7 linked regions of the Homo sapiens genome follow. The protein of the gene in region 1 interacts with the protein of each later gene in a pairwise test. Each region holds a gene or a part of one and is shown in the gene's direction. Other genes may lie near its edges.

Region 1 (4,612 bases):
GAGCTATGATTGTGCCACTGCACTCCAGGCTGGGCAACCAAGGGAGACTCTGTCTCTGAAAACAAACAAAAGAAAAAAAAATAGGCTGCAGGAAAGTCTTCATTGTAGGAAGAGAAGGGACATTTTTATTTTTTGTTATCTGGCTGTGTGTTAAAATAGGCTTCATAATGAGTTAGATGTCAAACTTATACACAGAGGGGATAGCAATACACTTAACCAATAGCAGGTACCCATTCCAATTGGGGAGCCTTGGTTCTGATTGGTCGAAATATTTCAAATGTTGCCCCTGGTCAGCAACAGGGTCAGAAGTGAGTCCCCAAGGCCTAGTTCATGTTTTGTGAACAAAGATTCCACGTGCCTTTTAGGACGAGCAAGAGGAAGAAGAAGCAGCGAACCAGAAACTTGCCCTACAGAAAGCCAAGGAGGTGGCAGAAGTGAGTCCTCTGTCCGCGGCCAACATGTCTATAGCTGTGTAAGTGCCCCTAATCCCTGGGATGCTACCCTGGCTCCTGAACGTCCACACTATCCCAGGCACAGATTTGGGAAGCAGTGGGGGTGGTCCTTGACAGAACTGAGCTTTAGGAAGAGACACTTCTTGTCCTTCCACCCACTTTCACTCAATAAATATTTGGTTAGCAGCTGTTATGTACCCAGCACTGTTCTAACTTCTGGGGATACAGCATTAACAAGGAGGAAAAAAAAAATCCCACCTGTGTGTAGCCATTCTAGCAAGGGAAGGAGTCAATAAATTAGATAAATAAGTAAATTATATATTGTGTTAGAAGGCGATGGAACTACAGAGAAAGTAGGGGAGGGAAATAGCAAATGCTGGGAGTGAAGAGAGTTGTGATTTTAAACGAAGTTGTCAGGGAAGGCATCACCTAGAATAGGGGTCCCCAGTCCCGGGGCTGTGGACTGGTACCAGGCCGAGGCCTATTAGGAACGGGGCTGCACAGCAGGAGGTGAACAGTGAGCAAGCAAGCATTACCGCCTGAGCTCCACCTGCCGTCAGATCAGCAGGCAGCATTAGATTCTCATAGGAACACAAACACTATTGTGAACGGTGCATCTGAGGGATCTAGGTTGCGTGCTCCTTTTAAGAATCGAATGCCTGATGATCTCAGGTGAAACAGTTTCATCCCAAAACCACCCCCCACACCTAGGTCTGTGGAAAAACTGTCTTCCACAAAACTGGCCCCTGGTGCCAAAAAGGTTGGGGACTGCTCACCTAGAAGGTTACATGGCCTGAAGGAGGTGAGGGAGGAGCCACTGGGGGGCCTGGGGAAGGGCATCCCAGGCAGAGGGAACAGCATAGGCAATGGCCCTGAGGCAGGAACATGCCTGATGTGAAGGAGGCCTGTGTGACTAGAATCGAATAGTAAGTGTGAGGAGGTGAAGGCAAGGAGGTGACAAGCAGATTACACAGGGCCTTCTGGGTCAGGGGGGAGGACTTGGGCTTTTGCCCCTAGCCAGGTGGGAGCCATGGAGGGTTCTTGAGCAGAGGAGGCTGGGACCTGACTCAGATGCTCACAGACTCCTAGCATTCAGTGGGGAGTAGAGGGTGGAGAGCAGGAGTGGGAGGCTGAGATGTGGGTTGGTTCGCCTGGGTCATCCATCCAAGCTACAGTGCCTAGCAATGCTCTAAGTCCTGTGACCATGCCACTGCAGGAAAGAGCAACAGAAGAATCAAAAGCCAGCCAAGTCCGTGTGGGAGCAGCGGACCAGTGAGATGCGAAAGCAGAACTTGCTGGCCAGCCGGGAGGCCCTGTATAACGAAATGGACCCGGACGAGCGCTGGAAGGCTGCCTACACGCGGCACCTGCGGCCAGACATGAAGACGCACTTGGACCGGCCGCTGGTGGTGGACCCGCAGGAGAACCGCAACAACAACACCAACAAGAGCCGGGCGGCCGAGCCCACCGTGGACCAGCGCCTCGGCCAGCAGCGCGCCGAGGACTTCCTCAGGAAACAGGCCCGCTACCACGATCGGGCCCGGGACCCCAGCGGCTCGGCGGGCCTGGACGCACGGAGGCCCTGGGCGGGAAGCCAGGAGGCCGAGCTGAGCCGGGAGGGACCCTACGGCCGCGAGTCGGACCACCACGCCCGGGAGGGCAGCCTGGAGCAACCCGGGTTCTGGGAGGGCGAGGCCGAGCGAGGCAAGGCCGGGGACCCCCACCGGAGGCACGTGCACCGGCAGGGGGGCAGCAGGGAGAGCCGCAGCGGGTCCCCGCGCACGGGCGCGGACGGGGAGCATCGACGTCATCGCGCGCACCGCAGGCCCGGGGAGGAGGGTCCGGAGGACAAGGCGGAGCGGAGGGCGCGGCACCGCGAGGGCAGCCGGCCGGCCCGGGGCGGCGAGGGCGAGGGCGAGGGCCCCGACGGGGGCGAGCGCAGGAGAAGGCACCGGCATGGCGCTCCAGCCACGTACGAGGGGGACGCGCGGAGGGAGGACAAGGAGCGGAGGCATCGGAGGAGGAAGTAAGTGGAGGTGACCTCGAATCCGCAGAATGACGGTAACATTAATAATGACAACAGCCAAAGTAGCACGTGCTGTGTATTTGTTTATAAAAATATATTATAAAATGCTGTATTTGGCCAGGCGCAGTGGCTCACGCCTGTAATCCCAGCACTTTGGGAGGCCGAGGCGGATGGATCACGAGGTCAGGAGTTCAAGACCAGCCTGGCCAAGATGGTGAAACCCCACCTCTAATAAAAATACAAAAATTAGCCGGGCACGGTGGCAGGCGCCTGTAGCCCCAGCTACTCAGGAGGCTGAGGCAGGAGAATCGCCTGAAAACAGGGGGCGGAGGTTGCAATGAGCCGAGATCACACCACCGCACTCCAGCCTGGGCGACAGAGTGAGACTCTGTCTCAAAAAAAAAAAAAAAGTGCTGTATTTGGCCAGGAGCAGTGGCTCATGCCTGTAATCCCAGCACTTTGAGAGGCCGAGGCGGGCGGATCACTTGAGGTCAGGAGTTGGAGAACAGGCTGGCCAACATAGTGAAACCCCGTCTCTACTAAAAATACAAAAATTAGTGGTGGTGCCCACCTGTATTCCCACTACTCAGGAGGCTGAGGCGGGAGAATCAGTTGAACCTGGGAGGTGGAGGTAGGTTGCAGTGAGCTGAGATCGTGCCATCACACTCCAGCCTGGGCAACAGAGCAAGACTCTGTCTCAAAAAAAAAAAAATGCTGTATGTTTTTGTTTTTTTGACACAGGGTCTCGCCTGTTGCCCAGGCTGGAGTGCAGTGGCAGTCATAGCTCAGTGCAGCCTCTACCTCCCGGGCTCAAGCCATCCGCCTCAGCCTCACAAGTAGCTGGGACCACAGACATGTGCCACATGCCTGGCTAATTTTTGTAGAGACAGTGTTTTGTAGAGACAGGGTTTCACTGTGTTTCCCAGGCTGGTCTCAAACTCCTGAACTCAAGCATTCCGCCTGCCTTAGCCTCCCTAAAGTGCTGGGACTACAGGGTTGAGCCACCACACTCAGCCTAATTTTTTTACCTTTAGTAGAAATGAGGCCTGGCTCTGTTGCCCAGGCTGGTCCCCAACTCCTGGCCTCAAGCAATCATCCCACCTCAGTCTCCCAAAGTGTTCGGATTAGAGGCTTCACAGATGGGGAAACTGAGAGATTGAGTGAGCTCCTCAAGGTCATTCCTCTAACCAGTGTCCTTGAACCCAGGCTCTCTGGCACCAGAGGCCTTGAGCATTTCAGGGAAACTATTAAGAGAAGCCCCACTGTCGTCCAGAATTATATAGTCTTCTGTGTTCTTGCTGTGTGACTTTTGCAAAGTGACTTCATATCTCTGGGCCTCACACAATGGAAATAGTGGGATCTAATTGGGTCATTGCCAGGATTGAATGAGGTAATGTATGCAAAGGGCCTGGAAGAGCAGCTGACACATAATAAGTGCTCGGTAAATTTAGAGCATTTTTGGCCATTTTCAGCCAACTCTATTTACCTAATGCTATTCTTTGGAAGTTTGAAAAGCCACTCTGTTGGGAGGCCAAGGTGGGAGGATCACTTGATACCAGGAGTTGGAGACCAGTCTGGGCAATAGAGGCAGACCCCATCTCTATAAAATATAAAAAATTAAACAGATGTGGTGGCATGCACCTGCAGTCCCAACTACTTGGGAGGCTGAGGCAGGAGGGTCACTGGAGCCCAGGATGTCTAGGCTATGATGAGCTATGATTGCACCACTGCACTTCAGCCTGGGCGACAGAGCAAGGCTTTGTCTCAAAAAATAAAATAAAAAATAAAGAAAAAGAAAAGGCACTTTGGGCCGTTAGAATTGAAGGGAGAGCAGAGTTTCAAAGCTTTGGATGCAGCGGGATGTGGTGGCTCATGCCTGTAGTCCCAGCACTTTGGGAGGCCAAGGTGGGAGGATCCACTTGAGCCCCGGAGTTCAAGACCAGCCTGCGCAACATAGTGAGACCTCACCTTTTAAAAATAAATAAAAATGTTAGAAAGCTTTTGAGGCATCTTCCAGGCCAGCAACTTATCCATTCAGAACCAGCATCCTCTTTTTCATAACGACATTTTGTAATACTTTCTAGCAGATGCTATAGTGATTCTGCATATAGGGACTCAACAACTTACCCATTAA
Region 2 (4,612 bases), on another chromosome or scaffold:
GGTGTGTGCGGCGATCAGGGGGGTCTTACAGGGTGGAGTCTTGAGGAGGGGGAGAGTTTCAGTTCTAAGCCCGGAGGTCAGAATGTGCCATACTCGGGGTGAGAGGGAGAAGATGTTCGTCCTAACCTTGTGCATACATCTCTGCCACCCCCTCCCAGAGCTGGCCCATCACTGGGGGCCGAAACCTGGCCCAGGAGCCGTCACAGCGAGGGCTGCTGCTGACGGGGTAGGTGTGCGTGCTTATGTGGGTGAGTGGGCCCCTTGCTGTTGGGGGAGAGCCCATCCTGGGCCTGGTGGGTGCAGAGGTGCCAGGAGACTCAGGCCTGGCCCCTGGTGGGACCAGGTAGTTCCTCCTTGCCCAAGGTGGTTTGGAATGAAACCTCCCTGGACCTTGGTTCAAGGTGCTGCCCTGATCTGCCTTTTGGCCTGGAACTGAGCTCTACCAAACCCCAGGGCTCCACCCGCCCAGCCTGCCTGCCCTGGGACTGGAAAATCTGGGCTGGCCCACGCTGAGCTGCCCAGGGAAGGTGCCAGAGAGCCCAGCGTGGGCCTGGCGGGCGCTGACGTGCCCAGTGACTCAGGTCTCAACTTCCTGCCCTGCCCCCACTCCCGCCTGTGCTGGGACCCTCAGGCCTCTGACTCTGGTGTGCCCTTCCCTGCTGAAGAGCTTGCCGTGGCTTTCAGGGCTGCTGGAATGAGTCTCAACCACCCCCACAGTCACACACCTCTCACGCCCTGGCTCTGGGCTTTCACCACCGCCTGGGGCCCTGCTTGGACTCTGCAGCTGTGTCCCAAGGCTGCGCCCTAGATTTGTCTACTCCTTCCCCTGCCCCCTCCCTGCTTTCTCCCGGCCTCTGTAGTCTTCCTGCTCCTCCACCTACGTGGCTGCCTTGGGCCCCATGCAGCTCCTCCCCCGGGATGCCCCATGCTCTGTTCTGTGACTGCCTTACTCTTGATCACCTCTGATGGCTGCTCCAGTGCAGGCAGAACCCCCAAAGTCCTCTGTTCTCTACATGTCCCCCTTTGCCACCTCCTGTTAATCAGGGTGGTCATTTCCACCTTGTTTGGTTTAAAGGCTCCAGGTGCATATGGTGCATGTGGCCTGGCCTATAACAGGTGCACAGTGTACCTGTGCTGTCTACAGTAGGTGCCTATTGTTTTTTGTAAAAGTAGGATTCCGGTCAGTGTTTGGCACGTGCAGTAGGTGCTTAGTGAGTGGTTATCAGATGAGTGAATGGAGGGGCGTGCAGGCCTCCCAGGAACTCGGGTAGCCCTGACATCTGCCCTCCCTGCAGCCATGAGGACGGCACCGTGAGGTTCTGGGATGCCTCGGGTGTGGCGCTGCGGCCGCTCTATAAGCTGAGCACAGCTGGCCTCTTCCAGACAGACTGTGAGCACGCTGACAGCCTGGCCCAGGCTGCCGAGGACGACTGGCCACCCTTCCGCAAGGTGGGCCCCTCCCCTGGCCCTGATGAGCTGGTCCTGACCCCGCCTGGACTCATTACTCCTTCCCATCCCTCTAGGTGGGCTGCTTCGATCCCTACAGTGACGATCCCCGGCTTGGCGTGCAGAAGGTTGCTCTCTGCAAGTATACAGCCCAGATGGTGGTGGCTGGCACTGCAGGCCAGGTAGGGCTGGGTGTCCCCTGGGTTGGAGATGTCAGGGAGGGCTTTCTGGAAGAGATGAGCTGGAGGGTCTGGTGGAAAGGGAGATGGACTGGCACAGGCAAAAGCCAAGGTGGGAATAGGGCTCTGGGTGGGGCTGGCTGGGGTGAGGACAGATGGGAAGTGGGCCTGTCGCTGGGGGAACCACAGTGTTGAGAGGAGGGAACTCATGTCAGTGCTGTGCTCCGGCACTCACATGACATACAGGAGGTGCTCAATGTGTCCTTATTGCTAAATGGGAGATAGAGGCTCAGGGTAAGGGTGGACACTTTGCCCTCAGAGGGCAGGGACTAGTGTGTCTTGGTCACCACTGTGTTCCTTGTGCTCAGCCAGGGCCTTGGTATACAGTAGGCATTCAGTGAGTGCTTGTTTAGCTGATGAACTGAAGACAGTCCTAGAACCACCTTGGTGGTGGCTGGGGCTGCTTCAGAGGCTCCAGGCTGAGTGGGGCCCAGGGCGGCCCCTCCCCTGCGCTGATGCTCCCCCTGCCTGGCTGTGGGCTCAGGTGCTGGTACTGGAGCTTAGTGATGTGCCGGTGGAGCAGGCGGTCAGCGTGGCCATCATAGACCTCCTCCAGGACCGCGAGGGCTTCACATGGAAGGGCCACGAGCGGCTGAGCCCACGCACGGGGCCGCTGCCCTGGCCTGCTGGCTTCCAGCCCCGTGTCCTGGTGCAGTGCCTGCCGCCAGCTGCTGTAACCGCTGTCACACTCCACACCGAGTGGAGCCTCGTGGCTTTTGGCACCAGTCATGGCTTTGGCCTCTTCGACTACCAGCGCAAGAGCCCTGTGCTGGCCAGGTGTGTGGGGTGGGGCCGGCTGGGCAGTTGGAGCCCCCAGCGAGATGGGGTCTGGGCTTCCGTTTCCACCTCTAGTGTTTGGTGTGGCAAAGGCCACTAACCTCCATTGCCCTATAAGAAATAACCTGGCAGCTCCAAGAAGGACATTCTCAGTACCACCTGCAGCTGGGTCCATAGGACTGCGCCAGAGGGGCTGTGACTCCCTGACCTGGGTGCCTCCACAGGCCAGCAGGAGTGTGGTGGCTGCCCCAGGAGGCTGCTCTATAGCACGACTGGACCCTGTCTTCCCCCAGGTGCACTCTTCACCCCAATGACTCCCTGGCCATGGAGGGTCCGCTCTCCCGGGTGAAGTCTCTCAAGAAGTCACTGCGCCAGTCTTTCCGGCGCATTCGCAAGAGTCGTGTCTCTGGCAAGAAGCGGGCTGCTAATGCCAGCAGCAAGGTGAGCTGGGGTGGGCTGCACAGGAGCTGTGCCTGTGTCCTGTGCCTTGGCCTGGCTCTGGCCTGGGACCCCTGGGGCCTGCTTAGCTCAGTGCTCCTCCCTCGGCAGCCCCTGGGCCCTCCAGAGGGATGGGTGAACTAAGCTGGGTGGTAGAGGAATGGTAACAGAACGTAGGGCGCAAAGCAGGATGCAAGCCACTGGGGTGCTAGGGAGACAGTGTTCAGGAGCCCCCGCCCGGCAGTTGCAGGAAGCCAATGCACAGCTGGCTGAGCAGGCCTGCCCCCACGACGTGGAGATGACGCCCGTGCAGCGCCGCATTGAGCCCCGCTCTGCCGATGACTCCTTGTCGGGTGTCGTGCGTTGCCTATACTTTGCCGACACATTCCTTCGAGATGGTAAGGCAGGGGCAGGGGCAGGGACAGGGCAAGGGTTGGGGGGGCTGGCCTCAATTGGCCACCTGGGAGATGGGTGGTGGCAAGGGAGGTGGTGGGACTGCACCTTCCAGGAGGTGGCTGGGCACGGTGGCTCAAGCCTGTGAGTGATCCCAGCACTTTGGGAGGCCGAGGTGGGCGGATCACCTGAGGTCAGGAGTTTGAGACCCGCCAGGCCAACATGGTGAAACCTCGTCTCTACTAAAAATACAAAAATTAGCCAGGTGTGGTGGCGGGCGCCTGTAATCCCAGCTACTTGGGAGGCTGAGGCAGGAGAATTGCTTGAACGTGGGAGGCGGAGGTTGCAGTGAGCCGAGATCGTACCACTGCACTCCAGCCTGTGCAACAGAGTGAGACCTTCTCAGAAAAAAAGCTTACCATCCAGCTCTCCCAGGGGGACTGCTGGGTCACCCCCAGTCTCTCTGGGGGAGCTGGATGGTAAAGGATTTTTGAGTGAGCTGGGTGGGCCTCTCAGATCTGAGCCAGGAGAAGGGAGGTTGAGGCCTGGTGGATGACGGTGAGGGGCACCAGCCAGTGCCCAGGCCCCGAGCCGGGCATGTGTGTGGGCAGCTGCCCAGCCACTTGGCTGGAGTGGAGCAGGTGAGGGTCGAGGTGTGTGGTTCAGGGAGATACTGCTGCTGGCCAGAGGCTGAGGACCTGGCTTTGATTCTCAGTGGCCTGGGAGCCCTGGGAAGGTCCTGGATTTGTTGATTGAGTCACTGATTGATTTTGAACTTGTACAATGGGAGAGTTTCAAACATACACAAAAATAGAGAGGTGCAAAGTTGTCCCACATACCTCACATGCCTGCCACCAGCCATGTGCCCCTGCGGATTCTGCCCCCCTCCTCCACATTCTTTGCTGTTTTTTTTGCCGGGGTATTTTAAATGAAAACCCAGATACAAGTACTTCAGCATGTTCCTGACAGATGTCACTGACAGCCACTGCTCACATCATGCCCTGTAGAACCAATGTGAATTCCTGAGTGTCATCTGCTTGGTCTACGAGCTCAGCTTTCTGATGCCATTTATTTGTCGAGGGTCTTTGTGCAGTGGATTTTCTCACTGTCTGGATGTGGCGGGTGCAGCTGGGGGTGGGGGGTTCTTTGACTTTTTGTTTTTTTTGACTACAAAGACCTAGAAGAGGAGAGCCTGGGGTTTTTAACTTGTTCCACTGGCCCGAGAAGGCCGATGGGTTCATGTTCATGGCCGGCTGGGGTTCCTGTTGGGCATGTTTTGAGTTGTGCAGACACTTAATGCCTCAGGATCCATCGGGTCA
Region 3 (4,612 bases), on another chromosome or scaffold:
GGGCTGTCACACAATTTAAGTGTATCATCCATGAATTAATGAGAATATGCCAGAGCCACAATGACATCTGGTGTGAGAGAAGGTAGGGAAGTTCTACCTACCTAATCTAACTTCATAGAAGTAAGCCAACAAACGTCACCTTCTCTTCCATGCTTCTCAAAAAGAAGCCCCTGTTCACCAAAATGAGTAATTTATTATTTCCTTGATTCAATGCAGAAGCAGTGTAGTTAAGAAAACATGATTTTCAATGTCAAACAACTTCTCTGAATTACCACCCAAACTCAAAGTGTAGTAAGCTCAAAATGATAGTTTGAAGTATCCTATGCAGTTTCCGTAGTGCATAGGGAATTTTCTGTACACCATAGGCTTTATCAAAGAATAGCATAACTGTGTTTGAATTAATGAGGTATTTTGAGTAGTCAAAATAGAGGCCTAAACTTCCCTTCTTTTCTCCCTGCTTCCTTGGATCTCTGCAGCCTGAAAACCTGCTCATTGACCTACGGATTCCAGTGCCTCGAGTGAAGCTCATTGACTTGGAGGATGCTGTCCAGATCTCGGGTCACTTCCACATTCACCACCTGCTGGGGAACCCTGAGTTTGCTGCCCCAGAAGTCATTCAAGGCATCCCCGTCTCCCTGGGGACAGACATCTGGAGCATCGGGGTTCTGACATATGTCATGCTGAGTGGGGTCTCCCCCTTCTTGGATGAGAGCAAAGAGGAGACATGTATCAACGTATGCAGGGTGGATTTCAGCTTCCCCCATGAATACTTCTGTGGTGTGAGCAATGCTGCCAGAGATTTCATCAATGTGATCTTACAGGAAGATTTTCGGAGGCGGCCCACAGCAGCCACATGCTTGCAGCATCCATGGCTGCAGCCCCATAATGGCAGCTACTCTAAGATCCCCCTGGACACCTCCCGCCTAGCATGCTTCATAGAACGTCGCAAGCACCAGAATGATGTGCGGCCTATTCCCAATGTCAAGAGCTACATTGTCAACCGGGTGAACCAAGGGACGTAGCCATCTCCCAGCCCCTATGGTTTCACATAGACGTGCAGTGTGAACCAAAGCAAGACTGAATGTGACTGTAAATAATTCTGTTCATCATTTCACTCCGTGCAGTTCTCTGAATTGAGAGATGTACCTCTTAAACCTCGTCAGTGGTTATTCAGGGTCTGAGCAGCAGTAAAAGTCACCCTAAATCAAGGGGCTTTTCAGAAGGTCATTCTGAAGAAATAAAGAGGCAAAGGGTCACAGAAGTGTTCAGAAGAAGGGCAAAGATAAGAACAATATTAGCTGTTACGAAATTTTAACTGTATCTTCCAAAATGAGTGGTTAACTGGGCAAACCTTAAGCTCACAAGAGTATAAAAGATCTCTGGCTTTGCTGAAATTTTAAGCAAGAAGTTCTATTTAATGGAGATGTCATGTATATCAACTATTCTGGTTTAGATAACTTAGATATAGTTTCTTAATAGGATAGATACCCACATACAGTATAATATATCCCATTCAGGTTTCAGAGTTTTCTAATATAGAGATATATATATTAAATCAATCACAAGTAATTTTGAGTGCTCCAGTTAAGACAGTAATTTATTTACCGAATCATTACATTGTTTTGACTAAGCACAATTAGATGACAAGTTTTTTTAGAGCATTTTATAGATCTTGTATAGAAATCTTTTACCAGAACCTGTGCATTAAGAGAAAGCAATGTTGCCCTTTTGAATGAGAAAATTTTTTCTGTCAATCGCAGGTTATTTGATTAAGATAGGTTCTTTCTGTATATGAAACGCTCCCCGCAAATTCACTGGCAGCTCAGAATTATTCTGGAAAGAAAGCCTGCCAGGAAATAAATTCAAATACAGTATGAGCTGCGGGGATATTTTTGTGTCTACACCAGGTTTGAAATAAGTAAACAAATACAAGAGGTTCATATAAAAGGGCAAATGAAAACCTTTCCTACAGTTCCTATGAACAACGTACCAACACTTTCTGATTTCTTCTACAGCTGTAGAATACCATCTTTCAGAAAGTTGGCTGGCTTTATTTCTAACTCCTTATTGAAGCTAAGGGGTGCTTACTAAAAGGAGGCAGCCATATAGGCCTTTTAAAGGCCTGGTTCTAAGTCCTTTTTAAAGCCATGGAACAAAACCTGATACATCACCCTAACAGAGCATTAAGTTGTAACTGAGATTGCAATACCTGTCACCATGCAGCCGCTGATAGTTCTCTGAACTAAAAGGACTAATTGTACTTTGAGGCCAATGCTGCTTTCTGGTGTATATTCTCCATACAAGATTATTATTAACTGCTCTTTTTCCCTCTGGTGGAAAAAAAATTAAACCTGGGCATTTCATGGGTTTTCTTTCTTTATTTTTGTTCATTTGTTTTGGAGGGAGGGAGCTTGTTTTTTGTGTTTGTACATGATCCACCCTTAGTTTTCTAGAATGTGTGTTGAAAATTGCGATTATACAAGTAAGATTTTAAAAATGTAACTCAAGTGTTTGTTCAAATCAGGTTTAATGGTGTTGCTTCTCTCCTATAATGGGATAGAGAAAATTAAAATCACGTAGTACAGAAGTGCAAGAAGAGAATTTATGAAGGATGAATAGAACTACAAACCTATCTAAATGAAAAAGAAATGGTGGAAACTAAGCCTGAACTTTAACATATAAAAAACACTTATTCCCACAGAGAAAATGTAAAATTAAAAATCATCATCTTTTTTTTTCCATTGGTTTCAAAGACAACTTCCTCATTCGCCCTCCACCTCATCCCATCCAAGATTATAGATTGATAAATTAATGGAAAGTATAAGCAATAAGACTAGATAGCACTTAGTATTTTTGGGATTAACCAAATATATGGAAACCGACTCCGACTGTATTTGTTTCTTAATTTTCAAATGGCCCTGGGTCATAAAGCCTCACTCCCTCAGAGGTCTCTCGACTAACCCCTATAGTCTTCATTTGGACCTTTATGTATTTACAAACACTCTATGATACAATACATAAAAATTTAAAACATACATTAAACATGGTTACTAAAATTTTTCAAAATGTAAAACATATTTAGTAAAAAAATTTTAGTAAACATGTTTTCATTGTGTTTAAAAAATTTAAAACATATTTACTAAAAATCCTTTTAGTAAACAGTTTACTAAAACCCTTTCAATAAACATGTCTTCATTATGGTATACAGCATAAAAGAGGAAAGCCTGAGCCGGGCGCGGCGGCTCACGCCTGTGATCCCAGCACTTTGGGAGGCCGAGGCGGGTGGATCACAAGGTCAGCAGTTCGAGACCAGCCTGACTAACATGGTGAAACCCTGTCTCCACTAAAAATACAAAAAAATCATCTGGGCGTAGTGGCGGGCACTCGTAATCCCAGCGACTTGGGAGGCTGAGGCAGGAGAATCGCTTGAAACCGGAAGGCGGAGGTTGCCGTGAGCCGAGATTGCACCACTGCACTCTAGCCTGGGCAATAAGAGCAAAATTCTGTCTCGAAAAAAAAGGAAAGCCTGGCCCATAGGGTTTGTCATGGGACAAACTGTAGGCTCTGAGGATTCCCAATATCCATAAAGTCCAGCTTGGCAAGTTCTGTTCTGTCCACTGTGGATGACCTGAATCAAGATCCCCCTGCTGAGCCATTCTGAGTTTTTATAACAAGTTGAGTTTCTGCTTGAGAAGGCCAGGGCCCAGAACAATGGTGTGCAGACCACGGCAGGTGGGGGACAAGGAGGGTATTTTTGAAATTATGTTATGGGGGCAGTTGACAGAATGTTAGACAGACCCCAAGCTTTCATATCAGCTTTTACAACAGAGTTGGGAGGATCCAGATGTGGGGTTGCATGGAATTCCCCCAAGTACACATATTTGGGAAGTGAGAAGACAGGAAAGGAGGGACCTAGAAATGAAAAGTAGGATGATTTTGTTAACTGGAGCCAAGGTACAATCATTAGACTAGAATGAACTTAATAGAGGCCCCAAGAGAAAGGGGGTATATTTTATATAGTTTGATAACGGAGGGAAACTAACAGGGAGGCTCCCTGTCTGCAAAGCTCCTGGTCCCTCCCAACAGAGATAAGAGAGTAGTCTTGGTTCAAGAGTTCTCCACAGCAAGTTGGAAATAACAAGGAATCCCAGATGATGATGATCCTGGGGAATGTACTTTAGGTTGCTCTGAGGGCAACCGTGCTTAGGGAAAAAGGATCAGGGGCCACTCTTGTTCCTGTTTTGGCGGAGAGATTTATTACTTGGTAGTAAAGAAGAGAGGAGAGAAGAGAAAATGGTCCATTTCTATCATTATGATGGTAGTTCACAGTGGGAGTGAACTTTCAGCTGAAATGGGAAAAACAAACAATGGTCAAGGTCACAAGTTTCTTGCTTGGCTTTTATTCATTGCATAGGGTTTTGAGCTTTTTGTTTTGTTTTGTTTTGTAAGGGTGGGATACAGAAAGAATGAAAAGATCAGGGACAACCCATAATAACTTTTAAGAAGTATTAATATAATGATTTCCTACATCTTTTACATTTGTTTCAAATTAAATAGATATATATCCACTTACAGCTGAATGTGGTAAAATTTTTAAGAAAAAAATGGTAAT
Region 4 (4,612 bases), on another chromosome or scaffold:
GCACATCTGCTTTCCTTGTAGCAAGGGGAAGTTGATTGTTGGCCCCTGCCTTGCCCAGATGTGGAGTGTGAATTCAGCATTCTCCCAGAGAATGAGTGCTGCCCGCGCTGTGTCACAGACCCTTGCCAGGCTGACACCATCCGCAATGACATCACCAAGACTTGCCTGGACGAAATGAATGTGGTTCGCTTCACCGGGTCCTCTTGGATCAAACATGGCACTGAGTGTACTCTCTGCCAGTGCAAGGTAAACTCCATTAAATTTAAATAGTGAGCACTTTGCCAGCTGCACCCAGGGCTCATAGATAATAATGTGCTCTACCTGGACAATAGGAAGGTTTTTTTTTTTTTTCCTGTTTATTTTTCAAACATAGGTGGGCGGAATGCCACTCAGCTGTTAGTTCCAGGGCTGTCATGGACATCCATCTGATGTATATTCAAGGATAGTGCATGGACTAAAACCAGAATGATCCGTTATTTATATCACCAACATAGAAACAAGCTACTTAAATTGTCCTAGATATCTAACCGTACACATCTTTTAAAAAAGCTGAAACAACAAACCTCATGTTTCTTCTTTCATGATAGGAGACAATATTGTTTTATTGATTTTTAGCTGGTTCTTTTACAAGGTCCGTAAGATACATAAGTGAAGTAGATTTATTACATTTTCCAAAGTGGAAATCAATATGGCAAAGATGGGCATATTTCTTGGTTTGTTGTGGTCAGTTACATTGAGTTGAAACATTTAAGATCTGTTTTTTACCATATTTTATTCATACAGTTGGAGAAAAACCATTACAAAGCTCTTTCTCCTTATTCTCATTGGAAAATAGAGCTCTGTGCCTTTTGCTTCAATGAGAGCACAAATACAATGAATATAGGCAGAGCATATAGAGTTTGTAGATTAGTGACAATGTTGGAAGCATTCTAATTTGATTATTATTTCTACAAAAATTTAATTTTGTGGCCATTATGCTTTATAGTCATAATTTTGTAATCAACACTAAAACTAAATAAATAACCTGAAGGCTTAACAGTAACAACTAAATAGCAGACGTGTCAGATTTTTCTCAGCATAACATAGCCAGATATCTGTAACTGCTCTGATTTTTTTAAGTGAGCATTTCCATTTTGTAATTTTTTTCCTACAGAGCAATTTAATTCAGATTCACTTACTACAAATTCTTACCAGAGTAGATTGAAGTAACAGGACAAAGAAATATAAAATGCTTTAAGCTTTGAGATGCCATTTTTATCTATTTCAAGCTCAAATTTCTAGTTCTTTCAATCAATGCAATTTGTCAATCAAGCAAAGCTTTTTGAGTGAACATTTACTGCTGTTTTATGAAATGCATTAGCAAATTTAAAAGTTACTATTACTAAAAGTTACTAATAATGTATATGCGATGTTCCTTTAATATACATTTAATATGTGTATACTTAATAGTGCATATCTTGAAACTTAGCACTAATGACTAACAGGGAAATACTTTCTGTCATTTAATTACCAAATAGAGTTGAGTCCTCTTACACCCTTAATCTTTCTGTGAGATTATTCTTCTGAGCAATAGTGACAAAAATATATATTGAGTGATGGACAAAAATGAAATATAGCACAGATGGATATTTCCAGTAAGAAAAATGCATACAGTAATAGGCAGGAAAACAACTCAGACTGTTTTCTGGGGTAAAGAATTTGAATGAGGCCGGGCACGGTGGCTCACGCCTGTAATCCCAGCATTTTGGGAGGCTGAGGTGGGCGGATCACAAGGTCAGGAGATCGAGACCATCCTGGCTAACACGGTGAAACCCCGTCTCTACTAAAAAATACAAAAAATTAGCCAGGCATGGTGGTGGGTGCCTGTAGTCCCAGCTACTCAGGAGGCTGAGGTAGGAGAATGGCGTGAACCCGGGAGGTGGAGCTTGCAGTGAGCTGAGATTGTGCCACTGCCCTCCAGCCTGGGCAACAGAGCGAGACTCCATCTCAGAAAAAAAAAAAAAAAGTATTTGAATGAGTTTGTCATTCACTACCTTATAAACAACTACTATAATCTCTCAGCTTTTGATAGGAATATATTCCAGAAAGTGTATTTTGATATTAAAGTCATTTCTTTCTGTCAGATAAGTACTGATTCATAGAAGTTACTATTAAATACTATTTTCTTTATCTCTTGTTATTAAATATGAGTCATAAAAATATGCTCAGTTTTGTCAAATTTATCTCAAGTACTCATTTTTATTACATTTATTTTGTGTTATTTTGAAAATAAAGTTTATGCAAAACAAGCTTCAAGTATTGCATTAGAGGTAAGCATTCTTCACAATTTAGTGCTTTGAAAGCACTATTTTATTTATTATGTCTCCATTCTACTCCCCTCTGAGTTATTTGTTTCTAATTGATAAATACACACCGTGTGGGGCATTGTGCTGGTACCAGGTGTATAATGATAAGCAAAACCAGACACAGTCACCCTTGGAAATTATTCTCTATCAGCTTATTATCTGGCACTCTGTTGTTCAATATGCTAGTCAGTAGCCACATGTGGCTATTTAAATTTTAATTAATTAAAATTAAATAATATGAAAATTTTAATTTATTAGTTACACTAGCCACATTTCAACTGCACAATAGCCACATGTGGCTACTGGCTGTCATATTAGATAGCACACTGTGTAAGGCCATTCTTGCATTGCTATAAAGAAATACTTGAGCTTGGGTAATTTACAAAGAAAAGGGGTTTAATTGGCTTACAGTTCTGCAGGGTCTATAGGAAACAGTACCATGGTCTGCTTCGGGGAAGGCATTTCACATGGCAAGAGTGGGAACGAGAGAGAGAGAGAGAGAGAGAGAGAGAGAGAGAGAGAGAGAGAGAGAGAAAGTAGTTGGTGGGTAGGTACCAGACATTTGTAAATGTTGCCTTTATCTATCAAAAACTACAAACTTGAAGTTGTGCCAGTGGACCTCTGTTCTAACATTAGAATAGATAACTCGATCTAAGGAAAAAATACCTATAAATAAGCAATATTATAATAAAGCTTTTAATATATGATCAGGACTTTGCAGATCAATGGAGGAAGAAAACATTATTTCACAAATAATGGAATGACTAAATAACAATTTGAGGGAAATAACACACAGTTATAAAAATTATGTTACATATCAAAACAAATTCCACATGGAAAAAGTGTTAAATATTAAAATAAATTAAAATAAAGAAAATATAATTAAATATTTATCAAAACTCTAGAAGGGAGATACTTTTTAAAATTTATCAGTGATAAAATATACCTGAAAGAAAAGATTAGTGCTTCTATAGATACATAAAATTAGCAAAAAAAAAAAAAAAGTCACAACTACATACTAGAAAAACAGCTTCAGCAGATTTGGTTTCTTTGTTAGATTAAAAACATAAACATTAATAAGAAAAGCACTTACTGCTGGGTGCAGAGGCTCATACCTATAATCCCAACTGCTCAGAAGGCCCACTTGAGCCTAGGCGTTCAAGGCTGCAGTCAGCCATGATCATGCCACTGCACTCCACCTTGGGTGACAAAGTAAGACCTTGCCTCTAAAACTTTTTTGGAAAGCAATTATTTCCCCCATAAATAAATCTGCAAAGGATAAATAAACAACTCACTAAAAAAGTACACCTACTAAAATAAAAGAGGAAATCATTGAGCCTTTAAATAATTGAACCTTAATTGTAAACTAAAATTATAAATAATTATTTTCACATACTATAGTAAAAAAGTTTCTCCTAATAATTTCTAATGCTGACAGAGATATACTGGAATTATTATTTTTGTGCACTGTTAATATCATTAAAAAATACACAATGCAACACATACTATCCGCACCCCCATATACACACACAAATATATTGTTCTCTTTAATCCCAGGTCTGAGAATCTAACCTAAAGAAATAATCAAAGTATAAAACAAGCTATATACATGCCAATATCCATCTCAACATTGTCATACAGAATTAAGGAAGAAACGAAAATATCCAACAATAGAACAGTTAAATAAGTTATAGTAACTTTGTATACAATGCAATTATATGATGTGTTATACTTATATAATATATTCTAATTACATATTAGAAGATCATATATTATTATTCAGCTGTTGAAGTAATCACAATGCTTATAATAAAAATTAAGATAAAAATATTATGCACGTTGTGCACATGTACCCTAAAACTTAAAGTATAATAAAAAAAAGTACTGGTCATGATAATAATGAAAACAAACAAAAAATATTATGTATAATTACATATTCACTTTATTTAACTACAAAAATCTTGAAAATAAAGGAAATGGACTCTATTAAAACATATTGAAATATCAATAGTAATAGGATTAAAAAATATAAGTGTAGCTGAAAATTAAAAGTTGACTGTCTTCTAATCTTGATTTTCAAAGGTTAGCATGAAGAGTGGCAAGGACTTCTTTAACAATAAATATAGCCAAAAATAGCAGGGTCTTAAGGAAACTTATTTTACTGTGTCACTATATAAAAATAATTACTTTTTATAATGAGTTTTGATAGTAGGTGCTTATTATTCCTAGTAGTCAGACTGAGTTTCAGTGAGTCACTTTTATTTTCA
Region 5 (4,612 bases), on another chromosome or scaffold:
GTCAATTTTTATTTTTACCAGAATAAAGTTTGCACATAGTTTAGAGTAAAATTACTCATGAGTGTTCTCACTAGTTTCAACAGATTATCCATCTCTACATCAAAGGGTACCAAGGAGGAACAATCAATACCAATAAACTCTCCAATTTGAGTTCATCCTGAGAGTAAAATTAGATCGGAAAGAAAACAAGACTAAGAGTCAGGTTTGAGTGAAATTCCAGGGTCTTTACTTTTATCAACCAACCTGACCCTCAGTTCCTCATTTTTCAGATAGGGAGCCATAATACCTACTCCATCCACCTCATAGAGTTGCTGTGAAAATCAGGTGACCTAATAGTGAAGATGAGTGTGTATTAGCTAAAATAAGGCATAGGGAGCATTATATGATCTTTAAAGACACCTAAGAGATGCACAGGCACTCAGAAGAGAATAACAACATACAGTAATTTTCCAGATTCTTGTGATTGTCCCTGGGGATATAATGGGGGCTGAAAGGAAGAGGAATAAGTGTTGTGCCTGATTCTCCCATAGGATGATGTGATAGCTACACTTTTCCCCCAAGAGCCATGGAGACAGGACAGGGGAGGGGGCAACTGACAAGAAAACCAGCCAGCTAAGGCTCCCATCTCCTGTTGGACAGCCCTTGTTTATAAGACATATACTCTATGGAGGTTGCAAGATTTTCTTTCTTTTCTTTTTTTTTTTTTTTTTTTCCCGAAACGGAGTCTTGCTTTTTGGCCCAGGCTGGAGTGCAGTGGCACAATCTCAGCTCGCTGCAACCGCTGCCTCCTAGGCACAAGTGATTCTCCTGCCTCAGCCTCCCTAGGAACTGGGATTACAGGCAAGCACCACCACACCTGGCTAATTTTTGTATTTTTAGTAGAGACGGGGTTTCACCATGTTACCAGGCTTGTCTCCAACTCCTGATCTCAAGTGATCCACCTGCCTTGGTGTTCCTAAGGGATTACAGGTGTGAGCCACTGGGACGAGGCAAGATTTTCTATTTAAAGTATCAAAACTTAGTCTTTTAGTTTGACTCCAGTGTGAGTCTGTATAGAAGACTAGTGGGAAGTAAAACTGACACATAATAGGCCCATGAGGAATATAGATGGGACCTTTTTCAGGTACAAGTGTCAAAAATCAACCCCAAACTGCTTAAAACTAACAAACAAGCAGATAAGCGTACTGGGAATTTGTTAGTTTAAACAGATTCACATGCCTTTATATGCCTTTCTGAAAACAGCTGAACACTTTTTGTAATCAGACCTTACCTGATCTGCACTTTCTTCATGGCAAAACCTACCCTGACCTAAACTGACATTAATTAGGCCCTTAGTTTGTTTCATTGCAGAAATATGAATTGAATTTGATTGCAGTGATGTTGTCCTTGATCCAGACAGAGGTGTATGTAATATACTCAAGTATGTGCCTCATTGTGCTATTCTCACCTGAATAATTCTGAGTTCTGAAACATATTTAAATCCAAGAGTTTCAAAAAAATGATTGTGGGCCTGTCCAGCTGAAAAGCCAGAGGTAGTGCTAATGTCAGCTGTTTCTCCTTTTCCCTCAGAAGGTGCTTTCTAGTAAGCAGCAAAGTTCATATGCTGCTTAGTACCTTTCTTATCCAGTATTGAAATTAACACCTGAAAAAGACTCCTGATCGTTGACTGGGGTCGTATCCCCACATGTGGGCCAATCACTTTGTCTAGGAGGGTAGCAGTATTTTGATGGGTGAGCTTGGGTCACATGTCCTCCCTCAAAGGGAGATGTTGACCTTTGATGGGCAGTCCACCAGTTGGGTAGGGACAGTTCCCCAAAGGAAAGTGGGATGCTGTTACTAGAATAAGAGAAAAGAGATGTGGGATAAGAAAAAAAAAAAAAACCCACTAGAGATCAGGTTTTATAGGCCCTAAATGCCTAGGCTAGAGAGTTTCAACCTTATTATTTTGGATAAGTTTATATTGAAGTTTATATTGAGGATCTCTGAGAAGGAGAGACAACAACCCACTGATTCTACCAGCACAAGTCTACCATGTAACATACAGATCAGAAAACATTCTCTGTTCTTGAGAAGCTAGAACATTTTCACCTATAATTATCATTTAGTAAGACAAATAGTAATGGACTTCTGGGTAGTATAGTATGGTTCAGTCACGCCTTGGGAGAGTCTGCTGGTAGCAGTGTGCACAATGAACTGAATGCATAATGGCAGAGTGGTTATTGTGTTGGCAATGATTATTGGTAATGGAAACAGGAGCCATGACAATGGAAAGATTTGGAAGTTCTTGTAGAGGATGATTCAATAGGGCTTGGTAACTAAATGGAAGTAGGGGATGAGGAGGAGGGAGAATGTGAAGATAGCTGTAAAGTTTTAGCCTTGGGACCAGGAGAATGGTGGACTGTTGTGTAGAATTAGGACAGTCTGCAGGATCATTTTGAGAACAAAAGAATAGGCTCAGCATTAGTTTATACTTAAGGTATACAACATGATATTTTGATATACATATACATAGTGAAATGATTATTACAGGTAAGCAAATTTACATATTTATTGTCTTCCATAATTACCCCTCCTTTTTGTGGTAAGGGCACCTGAAATCTAGTCTCTTAGCAAATAGTCAATAAACAACACAGTATTATTATGTTGTTTATCCCTAGTACTCCTGCTGCACATTCCATCTCTAGACAAATTCATCCTACATAACTGTGAGTTTGTACCCTTTGACCTACATCTCCCTCCTCCCTCTCCTCACCCCGGTAGTCACTGTTACACTCTGTTTCTATGTAATCAACATTTTCTCCCCTAAATTCCACATATAAGCGGGATCATCAGCATTCTTTTTGTTAGAAGATAGAAGGACATGCTTATAGAAATGTCTAGTAGGTGGAAGAGCATTTAGGTTGGGAAAGAAGTATAAATTAGCACTCATCATCAACCTCAGTATAAAGGAAGCTTGTGGAAGGGCTTAGGATTGTTAAGAGATGAAGCATGAAGAGAGGGGCACTGAGAAGAAAAGGCAGAGAAAAGAATGTCTCCACTTAGGGAGCGAGGGAGAACGGGAGTAGATGAAGGGGCCAGGAAGATGGAGAGAGCCACCAGAAGAAAGGGTGCCTCCTTTAGATGGTGTGCAGTAGTGAGAAGTGCTATAGAAAGAATCCAGGAGGATGTGTGTAAAGTGATAAGGAGGCTTCCAGTGCTCTTAGCACCAATGCTTGATTGAATAGTGGAGTGGAAGTCAGGTTGTGGGGCAGTAGAGAAACGGAGTACAACAGTTTTTCATTGGACATCTGCTTCTATCCACCTGCCAGCCTCCATTCGCTCCCTTCATCTCTTTCTTGCCAATGTGCTGGAGTAGTTAGGATCATAGGTTTAGAATTAAAAGGGTTTGAAACCTAATACTGCTCCTTCCTAGCTGGAGGACCCTAGATAAGTGTCTTAAGCTCTCTGTTCCTCAGTTTCTTCATGTGTGTAAGGGATATAATAACAAGAGTGATCCCCGCATACAATTGTTGTGAGGATGAGTTAAAAGTAGCTAGAATAGTATCTGACACACAAATACTCTGTAAATGAGAGTTATTATATCTTGTTTAAAATTTTTTTGGCCAGGTGAAGAGGCTCATGCCTGTAATCCCAGCACTTTGGGAGGCTGAGGGAGCTGGATCTCTTGAGGCCAGGAGATCAAGACCAGCCTGGGTAACATGGTGAAACCCTGTCTCTACTAAAAATACAAAAATTAGCCAGGTGTGGTGGTCTGTGCTTGTAGTTGCAGCTACCCGGGAGGCTGAGGTGGGACAGTTGCTTGAGCCCGGGAGGCTGAGGCATCAGTGAGCCGAGATCATGCCACTGCACTCCAGCCTGGGTGACGGAGCGAGACTCTGTCTCAAAAAAAAAAAAAAAACAAACAACTTTTTTTTTTTTTTTTACCCTGCAGTAAATCGGTTCACCCCATTTGTTTTTTACCTCCCCATTCACTCTCAAACATGTCCAAGTTTGGAAGATAAATGATGTAGTCATCCCAATTGTATGTGAATTTGTGTGTGTGTGTCTAATTACACACCTATCCTTCCACTAGCTGGTGAGCTTTTTGAGAGGGCAGTGCCTCATTCATGATTGTATCCCCAGCACCTAGAACAGTGTGTGGTACAGGAGAAACACAGTGAGCACGTGGGCAGGGGGCATGCAGGGTGTAAGTAAAGAGGGATAAAAAGTCCATCTGGAAAGGAAGAGAAACGTTGGTGCCTCAGACTAAAGAGGAAGGAAGGGCGAGTGGCGAGTCAGAGGAATTCCGCTGAGGAGGAAAGGAAGTATAGAGTGGCCTCAATCTCAGTCACTTAAAAGGATTATAAATCATTCTATCATAAAGACACATGAACACGTATGTTTATTGCAGCACTATTTACAATAGCAAAGACTTGGAACCAACCCAAATGCCCATCAATTATAGACTGGATAAAGAAAATGTGGCACATATACACCATGGAATACTATGCAGCCATAAAGAAGAATGAGTTCATGTACTTTGCAGGGATATGGATGAAGCTGGAAGCCATCATTCTCAGCAAAGTAACACAGGAACAGAAAACCAAACACCACATGTTCTCACTCATAAGTG
Region 6 (3,980 bases), on another chromosome or scaffold:
ACCCTGTCTCTACTAAAAATGCAAAAAGTTAGCCAGGCATGGTGGCACGTACCTGTAGTCCCAGCTACTCCGGAGGCTGAGGCAGGAGAATGGCGTTAACCCGGGAGGCGGAGCTTGCAGTGAGCCGAGATCGCGCCACTGCACTCCAGCCTGGGCGACAGAGCAAGACTCTGTCTCAAAAAAAAAAAAAGAGGGCATCACACTTTGTTGCCCAGGCTGGTCTCAAACTCCTGGCCTCAAGCGATCCTCTCGCCTCGGTCTCCTAAAGTGTTGGGATGACAGGCATAAGCCATCATGCCTGGCCTGTCTCTGAAGTCTTACAGACCCAAGTATGAGTCTCTGGGCTGCGGTTTCTGGCTGTGTGATCTGGGGCGAGTTCCTCTCTCTGAGCCTTAGTTTCCAAATCTGTACAATGGGGTTGAGGAGTTTGTTGCAAGTCAAAAATGAGATCAATTCCTAGCCCAGGCTCCCAGCACACCTTGGACCCTCTTTGCCTGCTACCCTTGCTCTCATCTGCCCTTCAGTTTGGTCCGGAGCCAGTGGCTTATGGGGAAGGGTTGGGCACAGCAGCAGGGTGAGATGGGCCTTAGGGAGCTCCAGGCTTCCCCGGGACGGGGGACAGGACCACAGGAAGCTGATCTGTGATTAAGTGTGGGTGTAATTTCAGCTGTTGGGAGGTGAGGAGGCTTGCTGGAGGAGGGGGCTGGGCCTGGGTGACTCGGCAGGCCTTGGCCTGCTGACCCCTTTAGGGCGGCCCTGCAGGGGACAGGCGTCTTGAGGGAGCCTCGGTGGTGATTAAGGTGTTTTCCAGGGCCTAGGAGGGAAGTCGCTGAGATACCTGTTTCCTGCCTCAGCTGGATTTCCTCACTGGGGAGGCTGCCAGCTGAACTGCAGGAGCCTCCCCTTCCTGGCGGTCCCTCAGCCCTCCTCCACGCAGCCAGCTGCTCTGTCACCTGACACTAGCCTACTTGTTCCGTACCTGCAGCCGGCACAGGATGGGGTTTTGAGTGTGCCCTGGACATTCCCGGAGGGAAGGAGGGCAGGCTGCAGGTCTGTCTGCAGGGTAGAAGCTGGAAGGGGCAGAGATGGACCACCCCCCCATCCCTTAGGCCCATTTCCCCCTGTCTGGGGAGTTGTGGCCCCTGCCTGGCTTGGCCCGGGCCTGCTCTCAGGCTGAGCGCAGACAAGTTAGGATCTGTGGGTCTGAAGCCCTGCCCGGGAGACGGTGGAAAGAAGGTGGCAGGAGGTGACTGGGTTCAGGGCCCGGAAGACGGGTGAGCAAAGTGGAGGGGAAGGAGCTCTTGGGGTGCCAGGCTGGATGATGACACAGTAATACGGGTACTTCAGACTTACCCAGTACCCACTGTCTGCTCTGAGTTTCTCAGTGAATCCTCCCATTCACCTGTGTTTCCTGCTCACCACCTCCCTGCGGTGCTCAGAATTAGGTCCCAGCCCCTGACTTAATATAGCCTACGAGGCCCTGCAACACCCGGCCTCCTGCCACCTGCTCCTCTCAAACTCCTCCAGCTATACCAGTCTTTGTTTCTTTTTCTTTTCTTTTTTTTTTTTTTGAGACAGGGTCTCACACTGTCACCCAGGCTGGAGTGCAGTGGCACAATCACAGCTCACCGCTGCCTCAACCTCCCACGCTCAGGTGATCCTCCCACCTCAGCCCCCTGAGTAGCTGGGACTACAGACACCCTCCTCTACACCTGGCTAATTTTTGTATTTTTTATAGAGACAGGGTTTTGCCATGTTCCCCCAGGCAGGTCTCGAACTCCTGGGCTCAAATGATCCACCCCCTTCGGCCTCCCAAAGTGCTAGGATTATAGGCGTGAGCCACTGCACCCAGCCTTTTCTTTTCTAATGAATATAAAAATTTAAAACAAATAGAGATGGGATCTTGTTGTATTGCCCAGGCTGGTCCCAAACTCTTTAACTCAAGCTATCCTCCCACCTCAGCCTTCTGAAGTGCTAGGATTATAGGCATGGGCCACCTCGCCTGACCAAGGCTTTGTTTCTTGAGCATGTGAAACACACTCCCACCTTAGGGTCTCTGCGTCTGCTGTTCCTTCTGCCTGGGACATTTGTCCCCGTAATATCCATATGACCCTCTCCCTCTTTCTGGTCCTTACCACTCTTCCCATAATGGCTGTCTCCTTAAACTGCTTTATTTTTGTTCTCACAATTGTCTGGCCTGTATTTGTCTGTATTTGTTTATGTGTTTATCTGCTTCCTCCTGCTCAGTTTAAGTTCTACGAGAGCAGGACCTCATTTGTTTTTGTTCACTGCTGTATGCTTAGCACCTGGCAGGTAGTAAGTGCTTAGTGAATATCTTTGTCGAATGTTTTAAGCTGTAGCTACTAGCCTGATCCCCATTCTCTAAGCAGAGGACATTGAGGCACTGAGAGGTTACGTAACTTGCCCAGTGACTTACATATCCACACACTCAGAGATGCTGCAAGCCAAGTTTTGAATCCAGACGAAGCTCTCCTAATCACGCCACGTACTGCCCCATGTGCTTGTCGTGGGCAGTCAGTAGATATTGCTACAACTTGTCACAGATGTTGATTAAGAACTCTGGTCCCAAGTAGTACAGGGGCTACCTCAGGCAAGGAATATCAGGGATTGGCTCGGGGACAGAAGCTCTTAGGTTGGGTATGCCTCAGTGTCCGTGGGGTCTCCTAGGGACGCCTGTGCCTGGAGGGGAAGCCTAGGAACTCTAGGGTGGTCATTTTTAGGTTTGTTAATTCATTAATGTTCTCATCAGATATTTCCTGGGACTCTACAGGCAGTTGAATTTATCCAGGGACTTTTAGGCCTGAGTGGGCCAGGCTGGCCCTGCCCAGTGTGGGAGGTCAGGGGCCCCTGCCCCTGCCATGCTGCTAGTGGGGGAAGGGGAAGAACACCCTCCTGGTTGTCCTGTGTGGAGCCTGCGCTGTTTTTTTCTGGCTGTTCCCTGGGGGCTCAAGGTTTAGGGTGAGTCTGCAGAGCTTCAAGGGCTGCCTGGCCTTGGGGTGAGAGGCTCAGGAGGGAGGGCAGGAGGGCCTGCCCAGGCTATGGAAAGATCTGGAGCAATGATTCAGAGGCCACTTGGAGGCCAGAGGTGTGGGCTCTGCACCCTCAGACTACTTGGGGTATATGGGAAGGGTTCCCAGCCCTGGCCTGTTGCCCCCCTCCCCTTCACCCAATCCAGTCCCAGCTATGAGGGGTCAGACTGGAGGAGGAAGTGAATATGACTTGGTTCCCCGGCAGCTTCCCAAGTATCTGCTGGGCCTACCTCTCCCTGTCCCAGGGCCTACCCTGGCCTTTTTCTCCTCTCGCTCCTGCTCCTGCCAAGAAGAGGGAGGCTGCGCCGAGGGTCCCGGCCCTGCTGGAATGTTGCTTCCGCCTGGGCCTTGGCCTCTTTGGCCCTGCCACCCCCTCCTGCTCCCGGGGCCAGCTGCCCCAGCACCCAGAGCTGGCTGACTGAAACCCAGAAGTATGTGTGGAACTCACTTCGCGGGGAGCCGCCGGCCTCACTGCCCAGCCTGGTGGCGTCAGGGCTGTGTCAATAGCAGCCTTGAGAGGGGTGTGGCTCGTGGCTGCTGGGGTGGCCGGGTCGGGGGTGCTGTCATGAAAGCCCTGAGAACAAGGTGGCTCTTTGAGGCCTGGGAATGTGAGGCCTTTGAGTCTTGCTGCCCCCAGAACCACTCTCCCTTCCCTTCCATGATGCTCATCTGTGCCAGGCCTGCAGGAACCTCAGAGCATCCCTGGAGGCATCTGTGGCATCCTGAGATAGCCTTAGGACCAGCTCCTAGCTCCTGACCAGGGCCCATTCCCTGAGCCATGAAGGAGGGTGTCCTGTTGCTCTGGGTTTTAGGGGAGTATCTGGTGCGCAAAGCCTTGCAGAGTGTGTTGAATGAATGAATGAACAAATGATGTATGTGATTAAGCGTTTTTTAAAATTCATTTCACAAATATCTGTGGAGCATCTTCTA
Region 7 (3,817 bases), on another chromosome or scaffold:
GAAATCTGACGGATTCATTGGCCTTTTCTCCTCTCTCCTGTTTGGTTAGACATTTAACCTGTGTAGAGCATCTGCTGTAACTGTAATTAACTTAAACAAAAGTGAAAAGTCCCCACTCTTGTGTGTCTCAGTGTTTAATGCTCTTAGGCAAAGTAAATTCATTGTAAATTGTGTAATTCATTATTATGTCTTCATTTGGAAGTGTGCTATTTAAGAATACCTACAGTTGTATACTAGGCAAACCCTATTTTGAATGATCTGAAATTACAGATTGATAACAGAAGAATGTTTGCTGGAAGTGAAATACTGAATAGTGGAAGTCTATAATTACCCGTTGAGCCAGTTCCCAGCAGTGTCCTTAAACAGTGTCCACATAAGTGTATTCTCTTGTAACTTGTATAGCTGTTATGGCTGGTAAGTCCTCTGATCATACCTCACTGTGATTCTCGACATTGAAATTAAAATAATTTTAATGATTGAGAGTTTCCAACCCACTTTCCCATAGGAAGTGATTAATCAGTATCTCATAGTAGACAGTATTACTAGTGAATGAAGATGAATAGAGCTGTGCCTGTATAATTTGTGTACATAACATTGTTTCTCTTGGAAAATACTTCCAAGTTCCAGCACAGGACTCCAGGAATACACATTTCTTGAGAAATGTTTTTATCCAAGAGCAGCTTGGATAAGACCCGAGACCCCTTTGAAGTAGGAGACTTCGAAGAGTGTAGAGACTACTTTGTTAGAAAGGAGAAGCAGAGGTGGAAAGAACGTGGCCTTGGAGTCAAACCTGGCATGGAATTCCAGCCAGCCTCTTACATGCTGTGTGACCATCAGCAAATCTAATACTCTCTGCGCCTGTGTTCCTGCATATTTAGAACAAGATGGTCCTATTACAGATTTAGAGATGTCAGAATTTGTGTTAATATATGTAGGGCCTACAGAAGGTACTCTGAATAATCGCTGTTACATGGTAGAGAATGGATTTTTCATTCCCTTTCATTCTCTGCATTCTTAATATGGAAATTACTCTGATAGGAGGGATGTGCAGAGGGAGTGACTGCCTTAGAAATAGATGTATGAATGGCGTAACTTCTATCATTAGTCAGGAATGACCTCCATTTATAACCTGTGCGTTCCCTTCCATTTGCAGATGTAAGCAATAATATGATACAGCAAGTGTTCACTCCTGTGGCATACTTTTAACCTTTCTAAGCTTGTCAGTGGGAACAAATGAGAGGGGTAGAGTTTTTTGCACTAATTCTGCTCTTTGGACAAGTGCCTGACATCTGCTTCATTGGGTTTTAGTTTTTACTGGTGTTGGTGCTTTTGTCTGTCATACCATAGTATTTCAAAACTTCAATTGTTTCTACTCTGCAGGTTAATATGGCTCCAAAAGGGCCCCCTCCTTTCCCAGGAGTCCCTCTCATGAGCACCCCCATGGGAGGCCCTGTACCACCACCCATTCGATATGGACCACCACCTCAGCTCTGCGGACCTTTTGGGCCTCGGCCACTTCCTCCACCCTTTGGTAAGATGATCTGAACAGTAGTAATTGACTTGTAAAGCACATTCATCTTCTCCATCTATCCCTTGCTAAAACAACTGCAATTGCGGGGCTTTGCAATGCAGCAGTGAAGCTGATTGAGTACACCGTAACTTTTCCCCAAGTTTCTTCAGACACAAAGGGTGCTACATAATCTCCTGTGATTAGATGGGCAATAGTTGTCTCTAATAGAACAAGGAAAGGGGCTATTTATAAAAAGCCAGAAATATTCATCACATTGAACATCTGTGGCTGTGTACTAGGCTCTGCAATGGATAGCAAGGTAGATAAAATACATCCCCTAACTAAGATGTCCTGTAGGTCACAAATATACACATTCTACAACATAAAGCTTCTAATCACCCATAATGGAAGCATAAGCAGTAGGTCACAGAATATTAAGGAAAGACAAAACCCTCAACCCTCACCTTGGGAATACAAAGAAGGGAGATATGAAAGAGAAGGTAGAATTTAACAGCTATCTAATGAATGCTGCTGAATTTAATTAGATGGAGCTGGAAAGCCTTTTCCAGCAGGGCAAGCACCTTAATTTTTATGGCATTTATTAGGTACATCTTGAGCTACTGCATAAATTTTTAACTGATACACAGTAGTTAATGGAATTTATCAAAATTTTTATTGCAATGAAGCCATATTTAGTCTGTCTTCTTGGTATGGTATATAGTACTTCCAAGTACAAATCTATCTCTCTTTTTCAGATAAAGATGGCAGGCCAGGCACAGTGGCTCACGCCTGTAATCCCAGCACTTTATGAATCCCAGCATTCATTAGACGAGGCTGAGGCAGGTGGATCCCTTGAGCCTAGGAGTTTGAGACCAGCCTGGGCAACATGGTGAAACCCCCATCTCTACAAAAAATCCAAAAATTAGCTGGGAGTGGTGGCGTGCACCTGTAGTCCCAGCTACTGGGGAGTCTGAGGTGGGAGGATTGATTGAGTCCGGGAGATTGAGGCTGCAGTGAGCCATGATCACTCATTACACTCCAGCCCATGTGACAGGCAAGACCCTGCCGCCAAAAAAAAAAAAAAAAAAAAAAAAGGATGACAGACTATATTAACATACCTGGCATTATCTTAATTTAAATACGTTCCTAGGAATTTACTGGAAATAATTTTTGTTTTCCAGGCCCTGGTATGCGTCCACCACTAGGCTTAAGAGAATTTGCACCAGGCGTTCCACCAGGAAGACGGGACCTGCCTCTCCACCCTCGGGGATTTTTACCTGGACACGCACCATTTAGACCTTTAGGTTCACTTGGCCCAAGAGAGTACTTTATTCCTGGTACCCGATTACCACCCCCAACCCATGGTCCCCAGGAATACCCACCACCACCTGCTGTAAGAGACTTACTGCCGTCAGGCTCTAGAGATGAGCCTCCACCTGCCTCTCAGAGCACTAGCCAGGACTGTTCACAGGCTTTAAAACAGAGCCCATAAAACTATGACCTCTGAGGTTTCATTGGAAAGAAAGTGTACTGTGCATTATCCATTACAGTAAAGGATTTCATTGGCTTCAAAATCCAAAAGTTTATTTTAAAAGGTTTGTTGTTAGAACTAAGCTGCCTTGGCAGTGTGCATTTTTGAGCCAAACAATTCAAAAATGTCATTTCTTCCCTAAATAAAAATCACCTTTTAAGCTAGAGCGTCCTTACAACTTTGAAATGTGCAATAAAGAATACCTGTGTTTTAGCTAATGTAGCATATGTAATTGCAAAATGATTTAGAATGTCATGAAAAATATGAACATTTCCTGTGGAAATGCTTTAAGAACATGTATTTCCATTATCCTATTTTTAGTGTACACCAGCTGAATACGGAGCAATGGTGTTTATAAGCGTTTTTTTAAACTATCTGGTCACAAAGACTGTTACGCTAAAAATGTTTACTAAAAGATCACTAAACTATCTCCCCTCTTGCTGAAGTTCTTTGTAGTAATAGCTCATAAAAATTTGTTTATTAATATTTCCCAAGTGTCTGTTGACTCATTGGACTGTTATGAGGCTTGTGCCATTTGGGGAACATGTAAACTCAGGCTCCCAGAACTGAAGATGGTGGCTGGTGGCACACTTCCGGCTGCTCCTCCGTCACCTGTGAACTCTACAAGTGACGTCTTTTTATTTCAAAGAAGTTTATTTCCCACTTGTATAGCATTCACATGCTTTCTTTACGATCCTCATTGTCTATTTGAGAATGGTTTTCTGAGAGTGAGTTTACATTAGTAGCAAGAGTTGTTTGACCTGATGTTCCATTGT

What was found.
Region 2: the proteins of CACNA1A (region 1) and LLGL1 interact in a two-hybrid assay, tested with the Homo sapiens proteins (one study listed by BioGRID and IntAct).
Region 3: the proteins of CACNA1A (region 1) and KALRN interact in a two-hybrid assay, tested with the Homo sapiens proteins (one study listed by BioGRID and IntAct).
Region 4: the proteins of CACNA1A (region 1) and NELL2 interact in a two-hybrid assay, tested with the Homo sapiens proteins (one study listed by BioGRID and IntAct).
Region 5: the proteins of CACNA1A (region 1) and PCSK5 interact in a two-hybrid assay, tested with the Homo sapiens proteins (one study listed by BioGRID and IntAct).
Region 6: the proteins of CACNA1A (region 1) and HSPG2 interact in a two-hybrid assay, tested with the Homo sapiens proteins (one study listed by BioGRID and IntAct).
Region 7: the proteins of CACNA1A (region 1) and MIA3 interact in a two-hybrid assay, tested with the Homo sapiens proteins (one study listed by BioGRID and IntAct).

Annotation. Positions count from the first base shown.
Region 1 is NC_000019.10:13,296,410-13,301,021, reverse strand, and holds part of CACNA1A (voltage-dependent P/Q-type calcium channel subunit alpha-1A), read left to right. Parts: intron 1-365; coding exon 366-472; intron 473-1,668; coding exon 1,669-2,478; intron 2,479-4,612.
Region 2 is NC_000017.11:18,235,312-18,239,923, forward strand, and holds part of LLGL1 (lethal(2) giant larvae protein homolog 1), read left to right. Parts: coding exon 1-1; intron 2-158; coding exon 159-226; intron 227-1,295; coding exon 1,296-1,449; intron 1,450-1,523; coding exon 1,524-1,628; intron 1,629-2,169; coding exon 2,170-2,462; intron 2,463-2,755; coding exon 2,756-2,903; intron 2,904-3,144; coding exon 3,145-3,298; intron 3,299-4,612. UniProt on the Homo sapiens protein: Cortical cytoskeleton protein found in a complex involved in maintaining cell polarity and epithelial integrity. Involved in the regulation of mitotic spindle orientation, proliferation, differentiation and tissue organization of neuroepithelial cells.
Region 3 is NC_000003.12:124,718,449-124,723,060, forward strand, and holds part of KALRN (kalirin), read left to right. Parts: intron 1-476; coding exon 477-1,022; 3' UTR 1,023-4,612. UniProt on the Homo sapiens protein: Promotes the exchange of GDP by GTP. Activates specific Rho GTPase family members, thereby inducing various signaling mechanisms that regulate neuronal shape, growth, and plasticity, through their effects on the actin cytoskeleton.
Region 4 is NC_000012.12:44,515,639-44,520,250, reverse strand, and holds part of NELL2 (protein kinase C-binding protein NELL2 isoform b precursor), read left to right. Parts: intron 1-21; coding exon 22-246; intron 247-4,612. UniProt on the Homo sapiens protein: Plays multiple roles in neural tissues, regulates neuronal proliferation, survival, differentiation, polarization, as well as axon guidance and synaptic functions.
Region 5 is NC_000009.12:75,896,797-75,901,408, forward strand, and holds part of PCSK5 (proprotein convertase subtilisin/kexin type 5 isoform 3 precursor), read left to right. Parts: intron 1-4,612. UniProt on the Homo sapiens protein: Serine endoprotease that processes various proproteins by cleavage at paired basic amino acids, recognizing the RXXX[KR]R consensus motif. Likely functions in the constitutive and regulated secretory pathways.
Region 6 is NC_000001.11:21,930,811-21,934,790, reverse strand, and holds part of HSPG2 (basement membrane-specific heparan sulfate proteoglycan core protein isoform b precursor), read left to right. Parts: intron 1-3,980. UniProt on the Homo sapiens protein: Integral component of basement membranes. Component of the glomerular basement membrane (GBM), responsible for the fixed negative electrostatic membrane charge, and which provides a barrier which is both size- and charge-selective.
Region 7 is NC_000001.11:222,662,618-222,666,434, forward strand, and holds part of MIA3 (transport and Golgi organization protein 1 homolog isoform 1 precursor), read left to right. Parts: intron 1-1,380; coding exon 1,381-1,531; intron 1,532-2,691; coding exon 2,692-3,002; 3' UTR 3,003-3,817.